2 separate regions of the Homo sapiens genome follow, and region 2 is linked to region 1. The links come from fine-mapping of genetic effects on gene expression. Tissue or cell type: esophagus muscle. Region 1 holds a variant in brackets; the other region holds the start of a gene. All regions are shown on one strand. Distances are between the middles of the regions.

What was found. PIP is the estimated chance that this variant, and not a neighbour inherited with it, causes the effect.
Region 2: SUSD2 starts here. The variant in region 1 is fine-mapped to the expression of SUSD2 in esophagus muscle (GTEx, PIP 0.92).

What each region holds. Positions count from the first base shown.
Region 1 is chr22:24,218,006-24,226,177 of GRCh38, forward strand. GGT5 (gamma-glutamyltransferase 5) reads right to left here. Exons shown (of 12, transcript NM_004121.5): 8 at 8,071-8,172; 9 at 7,541-7,647; 10 at 7,240-7,406; 11 at 6,991-7,101; 12 at 1,655-2,111. The coding sequence ends at 1,965. Among named protein-coding and RNA genes, the nearest start is that of GGT5, 23 kb to the right of the region's middle. The variant C/G (reference allele first, on the strand shown) is at 3,542.
Region 2 is chr22:24,177,785-24,185,956 of GRCh38, forward strand. SUSD2 (sushi domain containing 2) reads left to right here and starts at 3,703. Exons shown (of 15, transcript NM_019601.4): 1 at 3,703-3,811; 2 at 5,273-5,483; 3 at 5,711-5,862; 4 at 6,352-6,519; 5 at 6,982-7,156; 6 at 7,310-7,511; 7 at 7,702-7,787; 8 at 7,877-8,145. The coding sequence starts at 3,736. CABIN1 (calcineurin binding protein 1) reads left to right here. Exons shown (of 37, transcript NM_012295.4): 36 at 1-33; 37 at 269-844. The coding sequence ends at 412. RefSeq lists enhancers at 5,673-5,752, 5,823-5,932.

The DNA.
Region 1 (8,172 bases):
GTAATACATTTTAATGTTAAGTCTCCACCGTCTTCATCCTACAGCAAACATGAGTCCTATGTTACATGCATGTTCGTTCAATACACATGTGTCAAGACTGCCTTCATGAATATTCATAGCTCTCCCTGTAACATGTTGAATATGTATGTTTAGCCAACCCCTTCAGCATACAGCTCCTGCCCCAACCTCTCCTCCTTAGAAGTGCCTATCTCCGGATCACGAGATCAGGAGATCGAGACCATCCTGCCTAACACAGTGAAACCCCGTCTCTACTAAAAATACAAAAAAAATTAGCCGGGCGTGGTGGCGGGCGCCTGCAGTCCCAGCTACTCGGGAGGCTGAGGCAGGAGAATGGCGTGAACCTGGGAGGTGGAGCTTGCAGTGAGCCGAGATCGTGCCACTGCACTCCAGCCTGGGCAAGAGAGCGAGACTCCATCTCGAAAAAAAAAAGAAGTGCCTGTCTCTGGTCTCTGCCAGAGGCTATGCTTTTGAAAGTGGCGGATGGCCACCCTGCAGTCTGTAACCCTTTATGAAAAATAAAGTTGCCGCTGTGGCTCACACCTGTAATCCCAGCACTTTGGGAGGACAAGGCAGGCGGATCACTTGAAGTCAGGATTTCAAGATGAACCTGGCTACATGGTGAAACCCCATCTCCACAAAAAATACAAAATGAGCCGAGTGTGGTGGCACGCACCTGTAATCCCAGCTACTCAGGAGGCTGAGGCAGGAGAATCGCTTGAAGCTGGGAGGCAGAAGTTGCAGTGAGCTGAGATTTTGCCACTGCACTCCAGCTTGGGCAACAGAGTGAGACTTTGTTTCACAGAAAAAAAAAAAAAAAGAAAGTAAGTTGGGGGATGGGGGAGAGCTTCAGGAAGAATAGCTAATGGATGCTGAGCTTAATACCTAGGTGATGGGTTGATCTCTGCAACAAACCACCAAGGCACATGTTTATCTATGTAACAAACTTGCACATCCTACGTATGGGCCCCTGAACTCAAAACACAAGTTGAAGGAAAAAAAAAAAAGAAAGTCTTGTCGGGCATAGTGGCTCACACCTTAATCCCAGCACTTTGGAAGGCCGAGGAGGGAGGATGGCTTGAGACCAGGAGTTCAAGACCAGCCTGGGCAACATAGCGAGACCCTGTCTCTACAAAAAAAATTTTAAAAATTGGCCAGGTGTGGTGTTGCACACCCGTAGTCCCAGCTACTTGGGAGGCTGAGGCAGGAGGATGGCTTGAGCCCAGGAGGTTGAGGGTGCAGTGAGCCGTGATTGCACCACTGCACTCCAGCCTGAATGACAGAGCAAGACCCCATCTCAAAGAAAAAAGAAAGAAAGAAAAAATGAAAGGAAAGAAGAAAGAAAAAAGTCTCTTTTCCAAATTTGTGAATTGTGTGATTTTTCAGTTAACCAGCTCTCAGGTCTGGGGCCAGTCACGCTGCTGAGTCCTGGCCACCAGAGTGGTGAGGTGTTGGGAGGCAGAGGTGGTGCTTGTCTCTGTCCAGGGGTGGCCTGGCTGAGGTTCGGCTGGTCCACGAGCATCAGTTTCCCCACCTCCATGGTGGTGGAATGTGGAGAGCCATAGGAGCCTGGTGCATGCACCCCTCTGTGCACTGTCCGAGGGTCCCCTCCCCACTTAGAACCATGGAATCAGGCCACAGTCCGCCTCTTTAATCTTGGACTGGAGGATATACAGATCGAGAGGGTGGGAGAGTGGCCCCAGGCAAGAGGCCTGCGGAGGGATAGAGGGGCCGGTTCAGGACCACCAGGGGCTCTGGGAAAGGGGGTTAGGGATGAGGCTCAGCCTCTCATCTGCCCAGCTGGTCCCCGCCACCTCTTCCACTCTCAGCTGGACTCCCCTGCCAGGGGTCCAGATCCTGCCAGAGTAGTTGGTCCCCCAGCCATGTCCGGCCTGGACACAGGACTCATGGTGGGGCCAGACTTCAGCTCTGGGCAGAGCAGTGTCTTAGTAGCCTGCGGCCTCCCCACTCTTCCTCAGGTCCGAGACGGCGTACACACAGGCCCCCTCCTGGGACACAGCCTGGACCACGTTCAGGAAGAAGGGCCTCTGGGTCTGGTTCTGGCCACGGTCTTGGAGTCCCCTCTGCACCTCCTGGAGAGGAGAGAAAGCAGGTTCACAGGGGAGGGCAGCTCAGCCCATCTCCAGGAGGGAGAGGCCTCTGCAAGAAATGAGAAAAATGATCAAAAGGCAAGACGGAGAGGAAGAGGGCCTGAAGACACAGGAAGAGGGGAGGACCAGATGGGAGCATGGAAGAGATCCAAAGGCCCATAGAGGACAAGCTCAGCCTCCAGGGACTATGTACGAAGGACACCACCCAGGCCCGAAGACCTCCAAATGCAAGTTCATGTCTGTTCTGGATCCAAGGACACCAGGGCCTTGAGGTGCAAATCTGAGTTCAGGGGGCCTTCGATGGAGGATGTGGCTTCTCAAGATTTAGACACTGAGGCCAGACACAGTGGTTCACACCTGTAATGCCAGCAATTTGGGAGGCTGAGGAAGGAGGATCACTTGAGGCCAGGAGTTTGAGACCAGCCTGGGCAATGCAGCAAGATCCTGTTTCTAAAAAATAAAAAATAAGAAATAAAAAAAAGCCAGGCGTGGTGGCACATACCTACAGTCTTAGCCACTTGGGAGCCAAGGTGGCAGGATCACTTGAGGCCAGGAGTTTGAGAACAGCCAGGGCAACAAAGCAAGACACCGTCTCTAAAAGAAAATCAAAAATTGGGCTGGGCGTGGTGGCTCACACCTGTAATCCCAGCACTTTGGGAGGCCGGCGCAGGAGGATCTTTTGAGCTCAGGAGTTCAAGACCAGCCTGGGCAATGTAGCAAGATCACGTCTTTATTAAAAAATAAAAGAAAAGAAAAAAGAAAAAATTAGTCGGATGTGGTGGCCCTGTGCTTATAGTCCCAGCTACTCAGGAGGCTGAAGCAGGAGGATCCCTTGAGGCTAGGAGTTTGAGGCTGCAGTGAGCTTTGATCATGACACTGCACTCCAGCCTGGGCAAAACAGCAAGACTGAAACCGCCTTTGCAAAATTATGACTGAGACAGGGAAAGAGATCTAACTTAATCGACTCCATCTTGCTTCTAACCTCCCAGTTGTCCTTGCTCATTCCTGGGTGTAGGCTGAACTAACTTTGAGAGAAACTTAGTTTATAGTTTAAAACAAAGACGGTAACAGCCCTTTCCCAAAGCAGACTTCCTTCTTGCCTGGGCACCAGACTGCCTTCGTAGGACTCACATTAGCCACAAGATTAGAAATTATGGTTTAGGAGTCACGCAGCTGAAGGCTAAAGATTCTGACCCTCCCTAAACTGCTCTTAAGATCAGTGCTTGAGAAATTTTGCAGACCCTGCACTTGATGGATCAGCTGGCACCATCCAGATCGATTAACTGGCTCATCTGACCTTGTGGCCCCCACCCAGGAACGGACTCAGCTCAAGAAGAAAGCTTCAACTCCCTATGATTCTATGATTTCCAGGGGTTTTTTGTGTGTGTCTGTTTCTGAGATGGAGTCCCGCT[C/G]TGTCACCCATGCTGGCGTGCAATGGCACGACCTTGGCTCACTGCAACTTCCCCTCCCAGGTTCAAGTGATTCTCTTGCCTCAGCCTCCCCAGTAGCTGGGATTACAGATGCCTGCCACTTTGCCCAGCTAATTTTTGTAATTTTAGTAGAGACAGGTTTTCGCCATGTTGGCCAGGCTGGTCTCCTGACCTCAGGTGAACCACCCACCTCAGCCTCCCAAAGTGCTGGGATTGTAGGCGGGAGCCACCGCGCGCAGCCAACTCCCTATGATTTCATCCCTGACCTATCAGCACTCCTGGCTCATTGGCTTCCCCCAACCCGCCAAGTTGTCCTTAAAAACACTGCTCCCTAGCCAGGCGCGGTGGTCATGCCTGTAATCCCAGCACTTTGGGAGGCCAAGGTGGGCAGATCACCTGAGGTCAGGAGTTTGAGACCAGCCTGGCCAACATGGAGAAACGCTGTTTCTGCTAAAAATACAAAAATTAGCCAGGCTTGGTGGCACACACTTGTAATCCCAGCTACTTGGGAGGCTGAGACATGAGAATTGCTTGAACCCAGGAGGTGGAGGTTGCAATAAGCTGAGATCGCGCCACTGCACTCCAGCCTGGGTGACAGAGTGAAACTTTGTCTCAACAACAACAAGCCAAAAAAACAAAACAAAACAAAACAAAAAAAACTAATGGCCCGAGAACCTCACCCTGCAGGGCCTGAGATTCCGGAGACATCTAGATGCATCGGGTGATGCCACATGGCCTGAGCTGCTGACAGGGCAAATGAGGTCTTTGGAGCCCTGCACGTTTGGCTATGAGTTCCCCATGCCTGACCTACTAATTGCCCACTGTCCTTAGACTTGAAGGCCAAGATCCTTTACTGCTGAAGCCAAAGTTGGACCTTCAGTGCTCAGAGACTCCATTCCTCAGAGTCCACTGGCCAAACTCCAAGACTCTGAGGATCAAAGACTCTCCTCGCCCTAGTCCCTGGGCCTTAGCTGTGAAGGTCCTTGGAGGCTTAAAGTCTCCAACCCAGAGTTTAGGATTTACTCCATGGAAAGCCCTAGACCTGAATAGCTGACATTCCAACTCCCCAAGGGAGCTGAGAACCTTAGGTTTGTGGGTCACTGGATTCCATTAATCCCAGTCCCCAGACTGTCATCTCCCAAATTCTCAGCATTTCACGTCCCCAGGGTGAAAGGTCCTGAGAATTGATGTTCACAAAGACAAAGGTCCTTCAGTCAAGAGTCAAGGGAGGGGCCGGGCGCGGTGGCTCACGCCTATAATCCCAGCACTTTGGGAGGCCAAGGCGGGCGGATCACAAGGTCAGGAGATCGAGACCATCCTGGCTAACACGGTGAAACCCTGTCTCTACTAAAAATACAAAAAATTAGCCGAGCGTGGTGGTGGGTGCCTGTAGTCCCAGCTACTTGGGAGGATGAGGCGGGAGGATGAGGCAGGGGAATGGCGTGAACTCGGGAGGCAGAGCTTGCAGTGAGCCAAGATCGTGCCACTGCACGCCAGCCTGGGCAACAGAGCGAGACTCCGTCTCAAAAAAAAGAAAAAAAAAGAGTCAAGGGAGGGCCAGGCACAGTGGCTCATGCCTATAAGCCCAGCACTTTGGGAGGCCAAGGTGGACAGATCACTTGAGATTGGGAGCTCAAGACCAGCCTGGCCAACATGGGGAAACCCCATCTTTACTAAAAATACAAAAATTAGCCAGGTGTGGTGGCGCACATGTGTAGTCCCAGCTACTCAGAGGCTGAGGCAGGAGAATTGCTTGAACCTGGGAAGCGGAGGTTGTGGTGAGGCAAGATCATGCCACTGCACTCCAGCCTGAGTGACAGAGTGAGACTGTCTAAAAAAATAAAAATAAAAAAAGAGTCAAGGGAGGAGGGCTCCAAAGGATGTGCCCTGGATCTTGAAATCCTCCATATCTAAGATCCCTGGAACCCGAGAGCCCTGAGAGGGTCTTCCTGTCATGCGAAGGACCCTACATGCGGAGGGAGGCCTGCAAACTCCAAGAGTTTGAGCCTAACAGGCTGAGGTCCTTAGTCTCAAGGTCTGAAAACTAAGGCTCTTGGGACTACACTCTGTTCCTGGACTAAGGCCATGGTTCTCAGGTTCTAAGGGCTTTGGAAGGTGGACTTGAGACCGAAGAAGTCTCATAACAGGAGAGGCAGCTTTGACGATCTGGAACCTCAGCTGCTATCAATCTTTTTTTTTTTTTTTTTTTTTTTTTGAGATGGAGTTTTGTTCTTGTCACCCAGGCTGGAGTGCAATGTCACGATCTTGGCTCACTGCAACCTCTACCTCCTGGGTTCAAGTGTTTCTCCTGCTTCAGCCTCCCGAGTAGCTGGGATTACAGGTGTGTGCCACCACGCCTGGCTAATTTTTGTATTTTTAGTTGAGGCAGGGTTTTACCATGTTGGCCAGGCTGGCCTGGAAGTCCTGACCTCAGGTGATCCACCCGCCTCGGCCTCCCAAAGTGCTGGGATTACAGGCATGAGCCACCATGCCCGGCCACTATCAATCTTTTAAATAGGTCCTAACAAAGGGCATCCATCAACCCAAAGATGCTCCAAGGAAGCTGAGTCTCTGTCTAAGGATAGAGGGGGAGTCAGCCAGAAGAATTCAGCCCCTGGAGCTGCACCATGGGCTTCTGTGGGGAATCAAAAAAAATGTTTGTAGGCTGGGCATGGTGGCTCACGCCTATAATCCCAGCATTTTGGGAGGCCAAGGCGGGAAGATTGCTTGAGCTCAGGAGTTCAAGACCAGCCTAGGCAACATGGTGAGAGACCCTGTTTCTACGAAAAACAAAAAAATAAAAACTATCCAGGTGTGGTGGCACACACCTGTAGTCCTAGTTCCTTGGGAGCCTGAGGAGGAAGGATCACTTGAGCCCAGGATGTCAAGGCTGTAGTGAGCTGTGATCGCAACACTGCACTCCAGCCTGGGCAACAGAGTGAGATGCTGTCTCAAAAAAAAAAAAAATTATATATATAGTAAAAATTACCACCAATGCCCTAGTGCCCCAGAAGAAAATCACTTTACAGACTGTCACAGGAAAAACAACCTCTTTCACAAATAAAGTTGCAAATATTAGTTACAAATCACACAAGGAAAAAGTCACCATGAGGGAGAGTCTGAGAGGCCCCAGCCAGGAAAACTCACTTCTGAAAAATGGCATCAACCACAGACCAGAGACCAAGGTGCTGAGATCCTCAGCCTGGGAGCAGCATAGACAATACCCTGCTCTCTGTCTTGGAGGCCACAGAACTGGCCTGGAGGCCACTGACAGCCTCACCCATCAAGGTCCCCAACTCCTATGGCCCCCAAAGTTGAAGTGTACCTGGCCTAAGAATCTCAGTGACTGAGTTCCTCCCAGGTGGCTTTGAGCAGCACGGATTTGGGGAGTGGGCTCTGCCCTAGGCATCCAGCTCGGACCTCAGCCTCACCTGGCTGAAGTTGGGCTCGTACTCCACACAGCCCTTGCTGTTGACATGCAGGATGGGGGCTGCAATGGCCGCTCTCAGGTCAAAGCCAAGCCACAGCTTGCTCATGATGGCCTGGGGGAGAGATGAGGGTTTCAGGGAGAAAGGGGGCACCCTGCTACCCTACATCAGCCCTCACATCCCCACTCCAGAGACAGTCAGACAGTATGCTGCCCAGAGAGGAGACACTCGAGCCAGGAGCCCCAGACTCACCTGGGCCACAGCAGAGATGATGAGCTCCCCGCCAGCCCCGCCAATCACTAGCTTCGACCCCTGGGCTTTGTTGATCAAGATGGAGGGCACCATGGAGGATGGGGAACGCTCGCCTGGAACTGGGGGCCAGCACCTTCCGGGAGCTCCACCCACCCTGTCTCCACTCACTGCTGAGCAAACAGCGTCTTGGCAAGTGCAGTGACCCATCCAGGGGTTAGCATGCAACCCCAGCCCAGCCCCCTCCCTCCTCTCCCCTGGTGGGGGGCCCTTGTGGACCCCGGGTGGGAAGCTTTGTTCTCACCAGGTGAGGGGGTGGTGCCGGAACCCCGGGGGCATCGCTCGCATAAGTCCAGGAGCTCGTTGTTGAGGATGATGCCTGTCCGTGGTGAATACACCATCGCTCCAAAGCTGCAGCCGTGGAGGCAGAAGAGCCTGGGCTAGGACCCGGGGCTCCCACCAGACACCACTTACCCTGCACGCTTTGCAGGACCCCCTCGTTTTACAGCTGCCCCGAAGCATGCTGAAGCCGCTATTCTCTCCCTGGCACCACCCAGGAGGGGTCCCCAAAGACCCACCTGTGCCCCCACATCAGGGCACCCTTCTGAGTGAGGCTACCCATTCCCAGGTAAATCTTGGGTCGGGGCCACCCCAGCAGCAGCCTTTCCAGCCAGAGATGTCAGGGGTGGGGGCCTCTTTTGAAATAGAGGAGGAGAAAAAGGGCAAAAGCAAGGTGCTGCCCCGTGGGGACAAGTGAGGGGACATGGGGCTGGGGGTGTGCAGGTCTAGGAGAGGAGGAGTGAAGCCATCCGCCTTCCCCCAGGCCCTACGCACGGTGTGTTGATGGTGCTGGTGGCAGCCACGGCGCTGCCATCCTCCCCCAGCACAGACACATGGGACGTGCCTGTCCCGTGGCCCCAGGCCTCGGCCAAGCTG
Region 2 (8,172 bases), 40 kb before region 1:
AGCATCTCGGAGGAGACCAAGCAGAAGCTGAAGGTGACCTCAGGGGCTGGGCTGGAGCCATGTGTGGGTGGGAGGCATAGGTTACAAAGGGGGCCTAGGATGGGGGTGGGGGTGGCAGGAGGGCCTGGGGTGTGGGTGAGGATGGCATAGGGGCCTGGGGCAGGGGTGAGGGTGGGAGGGGGGCCTGGGGCAGGGGTGAAGGTGGCAGAGGGGCTTGGGGCAGAGCCCAGCCATCCTTGACCAGTGCCCCGCCCGGCCCTCTCCGCAGTCAGCCATCCTTTCTGCCCAGTCTGCTGCCAACGTGAGGAAGGAGAGCCTATGCCAGCCAGCCCTGGAGGTCCTGGAGACATCCAGCCAGGAGTCCTCGCTGGAGAGCGAGACAGACGAGGACGACGACTACATGGACATTTGAGGGGCCACTGCAGCCCCACCGCCACGCCCCAGGGGACCAGCCAGGCCTGGAATGCCCCCTGGGCAGGACCCTGGGCAGGACCAGAGGCCCACATGGATGCCACTCCCCACACAGCCCCCAGGCCTGCCCAGCCCACCTCCTCATGGCATCCTCCCTGTACCCAGGTCAGGCTGTCCACACCACATGGGAGCCCAGAGGAGGAGGGGCCCGCCTTAGCCATGTGAAGGTGGATTGGTCGCCATCTGCACGCCAGGCGGCATCCTTTTCTATGAAGTGTTGACTTTGTAAATCTGCCCACACCCAGCTGGCCATATCCACCCCTCGACGCCGGGATGAGCCGGCTCTGCCTGTGTCACAGTGGAGGGGTCCTTTAGGGCCAGGCTCACCCCTCACCCTTTTTTTGGTTGCTTTTCTAATAAAGATGGAACAGTTGTCTTTGCCTCTTTGCTCACCTCTAGGGGGCAATCTGGCAGAGTCTCTGGCGGAGAGTTGCTGTCCCCAGGGATTCTGGGCCTTTACTGCCATAGTCCATAGGGCAGGGCCTAGCCCCCCTCCTTCTCCAGCATCTCAGGGACCAGCCAGGCAACCAAAGCAGCGGCTGGGGGTGCCCAGTGGGGTAAGGAGAGAGCCGACTCGGGGCTGGGCCAGGCAGACGCCTCTAGTGCAGCTGGAGCCAGGCTTCAAAGGGGAGTTAGGTGCATCCCCAGAACGCACCTGGGTGCCAGTGGGTGGGAGGCTGTACGGTGGGAGGGCAGGCAGGGCTGGGGCAGCTGAGAGGCTGGGAGGAGGGGGCTGTCAGGGAGGGAAAGGGGGGATGGGGCCGGCAGGGAGGGTACTTAACTCCCATCACAGTCGCCCTAATGGGGCCAGTCACAGAATAGCTGGGCTCAGTGCAAGACATAAATATGAAGCTCCTTGATCAAAAAGGATTAAGGATTTTTTTTTTTTTTTTTTTTTTTTTTTGATATGGAGTCTCACTCTGTCTCCCAGGCTGGAATGCAGTGGCACGATCTGCAGTGGCACGATCTCAGCTCACTGCAACCCCCGCCTTCTGGATTCAAGCGATTCTCTTGCCTCAGCCTCCCGAGTAGCTGAGATCACAGGCACACGCCAACACGCCCAGCTAATTTTTGTATTTTTAGTATAGACGGAGTTTCACCATGTTGGCCAGGCTGGTTTCAAACTCCTGACCTCAAGTGATCCACCCACCTTGGCCTCCCAAAGTGCTGGGATTACAGGCCTGAGCCACCACCATGTCTGACCAAAAATGATTAAGGATTTTAAGGCAGGCCCCACAGAGCATTAAGCCCCTAGAGCTGGCACCCTTCACAACTCTCTTCCCCTCCCAGCACCGCAGGGGCCCTCCTGGCCCTGGGACCTCCCATGGAGCAGGCTCTCTGTCCAGGATGGAGATGGGGACCCTCCTCACTGCCCTGTGCCCCTCATGGGCTGGACATGCCCACCACCCAGGAGGAAAGGCGTAAAGGGCTGGGCACCGCCCTTTTGGAACCAGAGGCTTGGTGGCCCCAGATGGGTCTGGCTGAACCCGCCTTTCGGGGGGCTGAGATAAGCCAGCCCCAGTTACTCAGCTGACGCCCCCTCCCTGCAGGGCCTGGGGTATGGAGCTTCCCAGACTGCACACCTAGCCCCTACCGCACTTCCATTGTCTCCAGACACGCGCAGCAACGGTGCCCAGGCCAAAAACAGGAAGCAGCAGCTCTCCCTCCTCCAGTTCCCGGGAACTGTCTCAGCCGATCCCCCAGCACCCCTCCCTGGAGCCTCACCTATAGGAGGACGGACACCTCGGACCCTCCCCTGCACCCAGTGCTGTAGGGAGCAACTTCAGCCCTGGGCCTGGGATGAATGCCCTCGCCAGCCTGGGGCCAGGAGACAGGCTCTCCCTGGCTCAGCACCTGAGCGTCCACTTACAGGACACTCACCTGCAGAGGTGCCCTGAGCGCCATTGTGGGTTAAGGGACTTTCTCCCCTCTGGAGACAGTCCCTGAGAAGCTGAAGGTCTTGGGGGCCTCTCACCAAATGTCTTTGGGAGGTGGGAAAACATCAAATGCGGGTGTGGCTTCCCTGGAACAGCTCTGTGTGGGGACTCAGGAGCCAAGTCCCCCAGCACACGCCTCTAACACTTTCAGTAGGGGCCACCTCTCTGGAGCCACGGGTGGCTGCCAACACCCTGTGGTTCCCAGCAGGCACCACCCAGGCAAGAGAGAGAACAGGCCGGGGAACAATGGGCTGGCCTGGCCGCAAGCGCTGGGGCAGATCACAGACCGGATGGCCTAAGCTCATGCCCTGGGGCCACCTCTGACTCCCTGCAAGTGTGGCAAGGGTCCCTTTTGGACACCTTGAGAAGCTGCAGCTGGGAGAGGACCACCCGCCTGTCTGGATGTCCAGCCCAGGTGTCAGGGTCCAAATGACCAGTCCCAGGCCGCAGCCCTTACCACCCGCCCTGGCTGCAGGGGCTCCCAGAAGCCACCAAGGGCCTGGCTCGGCCTTGCCTATCCGCATCTGAGCTTCAGTTTCCTCATCTGCTCAAGAAGGGAGGTGAATACTGATTAAATTATGCAAACTCTTAGCGGCAGGATTAGGTGTGGCTGGGACAGCCAAGGCTCCCCAGGGTGGTGGCATCTCTGGAGCCCGGGGATGGGCCCTGTCTCCCTTCCGGGCCCCCCGCTGGGCTTGGGTACCTTCTCTCCCCTTCCTCCTTCCTCCCTCCAGAGGGGACCCCTGCAGAGCTGCCTCCGCCCCAGGGCTCAGCCTGTGTCTGACCCAAACAGCTCCTGCCTCCCCCTGAGGATGAGTTGGGTGCACCTCCTTCCTGCAGGAAGATGAGGGCTAGAGATGGAGGTCTATGTCAGGGCCACAGAGTCTGGAATCCTCCCTGGAGCTAAAACAGCCCTGCCTTATTCACCCTGCGCATCCCATCCTCTGCTTCAGCCCCGCCGGGCTCGCCCTGCATGCAAGGCGGGGCTGGGACCCAGGGTCTGAGCTTCGCCCTCTGGACATCCGGCTCATCGCCTGCCAAAGGTCCTGTGGCTGGAGGCTCCGGCCTCCTCACCCTCCCACAGGGTCCCAGGGCCGATCCAGGCCTGCGGGCCAGGAATGTGCTAACGGGGCAACTTGGGCCTTGCTGGTCCACGCAGGCACCTGTGGACTTTGAGAGGGGACTGGGTGGGGAGGGGCGGGGAGGGGCGGGGCGGGGCGGTGCCGCAGAGTGCAGGGCGGGCGGGGCCAGGCCAGCAGGGAGTGAGCTTGTCTGGCCGCCTCGCCTCGGAGCCACTGCACTGCTGGCTGCAGACACAGGCTGCACCATGAAGCCAGCCCTCCTGCCCTGGGCCCTGCTGCTGCTGGCGACAGCCCTCGGCCCGGGCCCCGGACCCACAGCAGGTATGCCTCCCTGCCCTTCTGTGTCCCCGTCTGTCTGTCCATCTGTCTGCAGCCAGGCCTGGGCTGACATCCCTCTGGGCTCAGCCTCTGTCCATCTGTCAGGCCATCTGTGGCTGTGCTAGGGGTGATGGGAAGAAATTCTGAGGGTCCATGTGGAGGGGCAGCCCATGGGGATGGGAGGTCTGAGCCGGGCCCACCCTAAACCTGCTGGTAGCTAGGAGGGAGGCGGGGGAGACCAGCAGAGGCCTCCGCCTGTGTCCCCAGCCCTGACAGGGCGGGATCACGGAGGGGGAGCCAGGATTGTGGGTCCTCATCAGGGTGGGGCTGAATCCAGGAAAGTCTAGGGAAAGCCCCGAACTCCAGAACCAGGACACTGGTCCCAGGCTGCCCCCCGTCCCCCACCCCATTTCCCATCGACCCTCTTGCCACTTATCTCACTTGCAAGCATCTCTCGGCCTCCTCCCCCGACCCCTGTGCGCCACCAAATCCTTGGCCAGTACATATTTATTGTTGCTTTTAAGTGCCAGGCACTGCACTTGGTGAAGTGGGGCCAGCGGGGTGGCTCAGGCCCAGGCCTGGCCCTCGACTGGCCTCTTTTGATGGGGGATGGGGAAGGGCCAGGGAAGTGCAATTCCAGCCTGGGTGCATGCACCTGCCCCAGTCCCTCCCTGCAACCCTTCCTTCATGCCAGCCCCTGGAAATATGGCCTTGCCCACCGGTCTTATGGCCCATAGGAGAAGTTTTGGGCCCGGCGCCCACAGCCCCTTGTGGTGTGCACCCCCACTTCCCTTTCCCCACTGCTGGGACCCCTGCTTGAAATGTCCCTCCTCTCCCCAGAAAGGAGGGGAGCGGCCCTGGCCTTCTGCCCTGAGCACGGAGCTCTCTTTGGGGTCTCAATTGCAGCCCCTGGGAGAGCGAGAAGTGTCACGTTCAGACCCTGCACCATTCCCTACCAGGCCTCAAATGAGACTCTTGGCAGCCATATCCCCCACCCCAGTCCAGGCAAGCAAGAGGGGTTCTTCTGCAGGCTTCAGGGCCCCCAGAAGGCGTGCTGACCACAGACACCCTGGGGAGCCAAGAGAGGTCGAGGGCTCCAGCTACCGTGGCCCACTGAGGACCCCTGCCTGTGGGATAGAGGACTTGGTGGCTGAAGGGCAGTCATGCCCAGGGGCTTCTCCTGACCCTGCAGGGCTGAGCGGATGCAGCTTTTTGCCTCTTCTCGCTGCATTCTAGCCCGTCAGTCAGGGCAACAGCCAGATGGTCTGTGCTAAGATTCATCCCATCCCCACGGGCCCTGTGGCTTTCTACTGTGTCCACCTGGTGGCCTGTGCAGTTCCTGGCCAGCGTTCTCCTGGGGATGCTGCTGTCTAATGGGCTGTGGGAGAAACAGAGACAGGCCCTGCACATGGGGCAGCCAGTCCAGTACCCGCCGGGCCAGGCCCTCAGCATCCTCTCCTCCAGATGCCCAAGAGAGCTGCTCCATGCGCTGTGGCGCCCTGGACGGGCCATGTTCCTGCCACCCGACGTGCTCTGGCCTTGGCACCTGCTGCTTGGATTTCCGGGACTTCTGCCTGGAGATATTGCCCTACTCAGGATCCATGATGGGCGGCAAGGACTTTGTGGTGCGGCACTTCAAGATGTCCAGCCCCACAGACGCCAGTGTGATCTGCAGGTTGGGAGGCCCAGGAGGCCGGGCACTGGGGCCCCACGCCCCCATCCCTGTGCATGCTGAGGGCTCAGACCCACTGACTGGCTGAGTGGAGCCCCTCGGACCCAGGACAGGCAGGAGGGCACAGGGACAGCTGGCTGGTTGGGTTCCCCAGGGAGGTTGGGGGCCCAGACCATCGAGAGGCTCAGCCTGCAATGACCCAGCCCCTCCCACCACCACCACGCCCACAGGTTTAAGGACAGCATCCAGACCCTCGGCCATGTGGACTCCTCCGGGCAAGTGCACTGTGTGTCACCTCTGCTCTATGAGAGCGGCCGCATCCCCTTCACTGTGTCACTGGACAACGGCCACTCCTTCCCTCGTGCGGGCACCTGGCTGGCTGGTGAGCCCTCCTCCCTGCCCACAGCCTGCCCCCACGGGGACTTTCCCCAGCGCTAATCTATGCACACCGAGACTTGGCCTGTCCGTGCCCTGCCTCTCTGGCTGAACCAGTCCCTTGGGAGGCCTGCCCGCCTGCGAGAGTTCCTTCAGCTCCTTTCCACTCCCTGGCATCCAGACCGCGGTCCCAGCCCAGAGTGAGTGGGAGCTGCAGGGGTCCCTAGAGAGGTGGGCCAGTGCCTATCCACTGAGCTCCGCCATGCCAGGGCAGGGGAGAAGCCAGGTCGAGGCTAGAGGCGTGGGCAGTGGAGGGAGGGCAGGCCCCTGCCTCTGCGGCCTCAGCGTCCTTTTCTGCTGTGCGGGCCAGAGAGACCATCACCCAGCTGCTGCCATGCATTGGCCCTGGAGGCTCCCACAGCCCTTGAAGCCTCAGGGCCTCCTCCCTGCTTCCCTGGGCCCAGGCCCTCACTCACCCCTCACCTCCCCTGCCCAGTGCACCCCAACAAAGTGTCAATGATGGAGAAGAGCGAGTTGGTGAACGAGACGCGTTGGCAATACTACGGCACCGCCAACACCTCAGGCAACCTCAGCCTGACCTGGCATGTCAAGTCGCTGCCCACGCAGACCATCACCATCGAACTGTGGGGCTACGAGGAGACAGGTGAGGCCAGCTGAGGGCTGGGGTGGCATCAGAGCTTTGGGCCCCCAGAGGGGGAGAAAGGGGGTCCCAGCTGTGTGGGAGGAGGAAGGGAGTTTCCAGGTGGGGTTGAGGAGGGAAGGGAATTCCAGGCAGAGATTGAGGATTCGGATGGAGGGAAGTGCAGGTCAGGGGGGTCAGGCAGGTGGGAGGGGGCAGCTCATGGGGCCTGGCTCCAGGGGAGGAGGCTCATGAGGAACCCCTGCACGGCTGGCATGGCCCTGGGCCCAGCTTCCAGCAGGGACAGGGATCCTGGAGTGTGGCAGGAGGTGATGGTCACCCAAGCCGGGGTCCCTGCTAGAACAGCCCCTCCTAAGGGGACCGCCTGGCGGTCCATCCACCCATCTGTCAGGCTGCTGTAGGTGGCAAGGCCTGGGGCCAGGCCTCGAAGGAACCCCAGGGCTAACCAGGCATCCTCTCCCTCAGGAATGCCCTACTCACAGGAGTGGACTGCAAAGTGGTCGTACCTGTACCCCCTGGCCACACACATCCCCAACTCCGGCTCTTTCACTTTCACCCCAAAACCTGCTCCTCCCAGCTACCAGAGATGGCGAGTGGGTGCACTTCGGATCATCGACAGCAAAAATTACGCAGGGCAGAAGTAAGAAGGCATGGATGTGCAGGTGATGGCTGGAGGGCCTCGCCGCCCGAGGCCCATCATGCTTGCCTGGGCAGCCCAGGCTGGGGGTGGGGAGAGTGGGGCGACCATGGGGTGGTGTGGGCTGGCCCAGCTCCAGCATCATCACCTCCACAGGGACGTGCAGGCGCTCTGGACCAACGACCACGCACTGGCCTGGCACCTGAGCGATGACTTCCGAGAGGACCCTGTGGCCTGGGCACGAACTCAGTGCCAGGCCTGGGAGGAGCTGGAGGATCAGCTGCCCAACTTCCTGGAGGAGCTGCCGGACTGCCCCTGCACCCTGACCCAGGCCCGGGCTGACTCCGGCCGCTTCTTCGTGAGCCTCCCATCAGGGCCCAGGAGAGGGGATGAGGGGTTAGCCTCCCCACTGAGGACAGCACCAGGGGAGGCAGACAGAGGTGTCCTGGAGGGTGGGGCTGGGGTCTCAGGACCCCTGCAGGGTTGGCCTCAGGGAGGGGATGACAGAACCCGAGGCCACTGGGTGACAGCCACCTGCTGCTCTGCAGACGGACTACGGCTGTGACATGGAGCAGGGCAGCGTGTGCACCTACCACCCCGGGGCCGTGCACTGTGTGCGTTCTGTGCAGGCCAGGTGAGCCCCCAGGCTGGGGCCGGTATGGGGATTGGGGTCAGGGGTGGGCTCCCAACAGTGGCCTGGCCCTGACTCACTGGCTCCTGCAGCCTCCGGTACGGCTCAGGTCAGCAGTGCTGCTACACAGCGGACGGGACGCAGCTCCTGACAGCTGACTCCAGCGGCGGCAGCACTCCCGACCGCGGCCATGACTGGGGCGCACCCCCGTTCCGCACGCCACCCCGAGTGCCCAGCATGTCCCACTGGCTCTACGATGTCCTCAGCTTCTATTACTGCTGCCTCTGGGCACCCGACTGCCCCCGCTACATGCAACGGCGGCCCTCCAATGACTGCCGCAACTACCGGCCCCCAAGACTGGGTGGGTGCCATCCCGTGCCCCAGACCC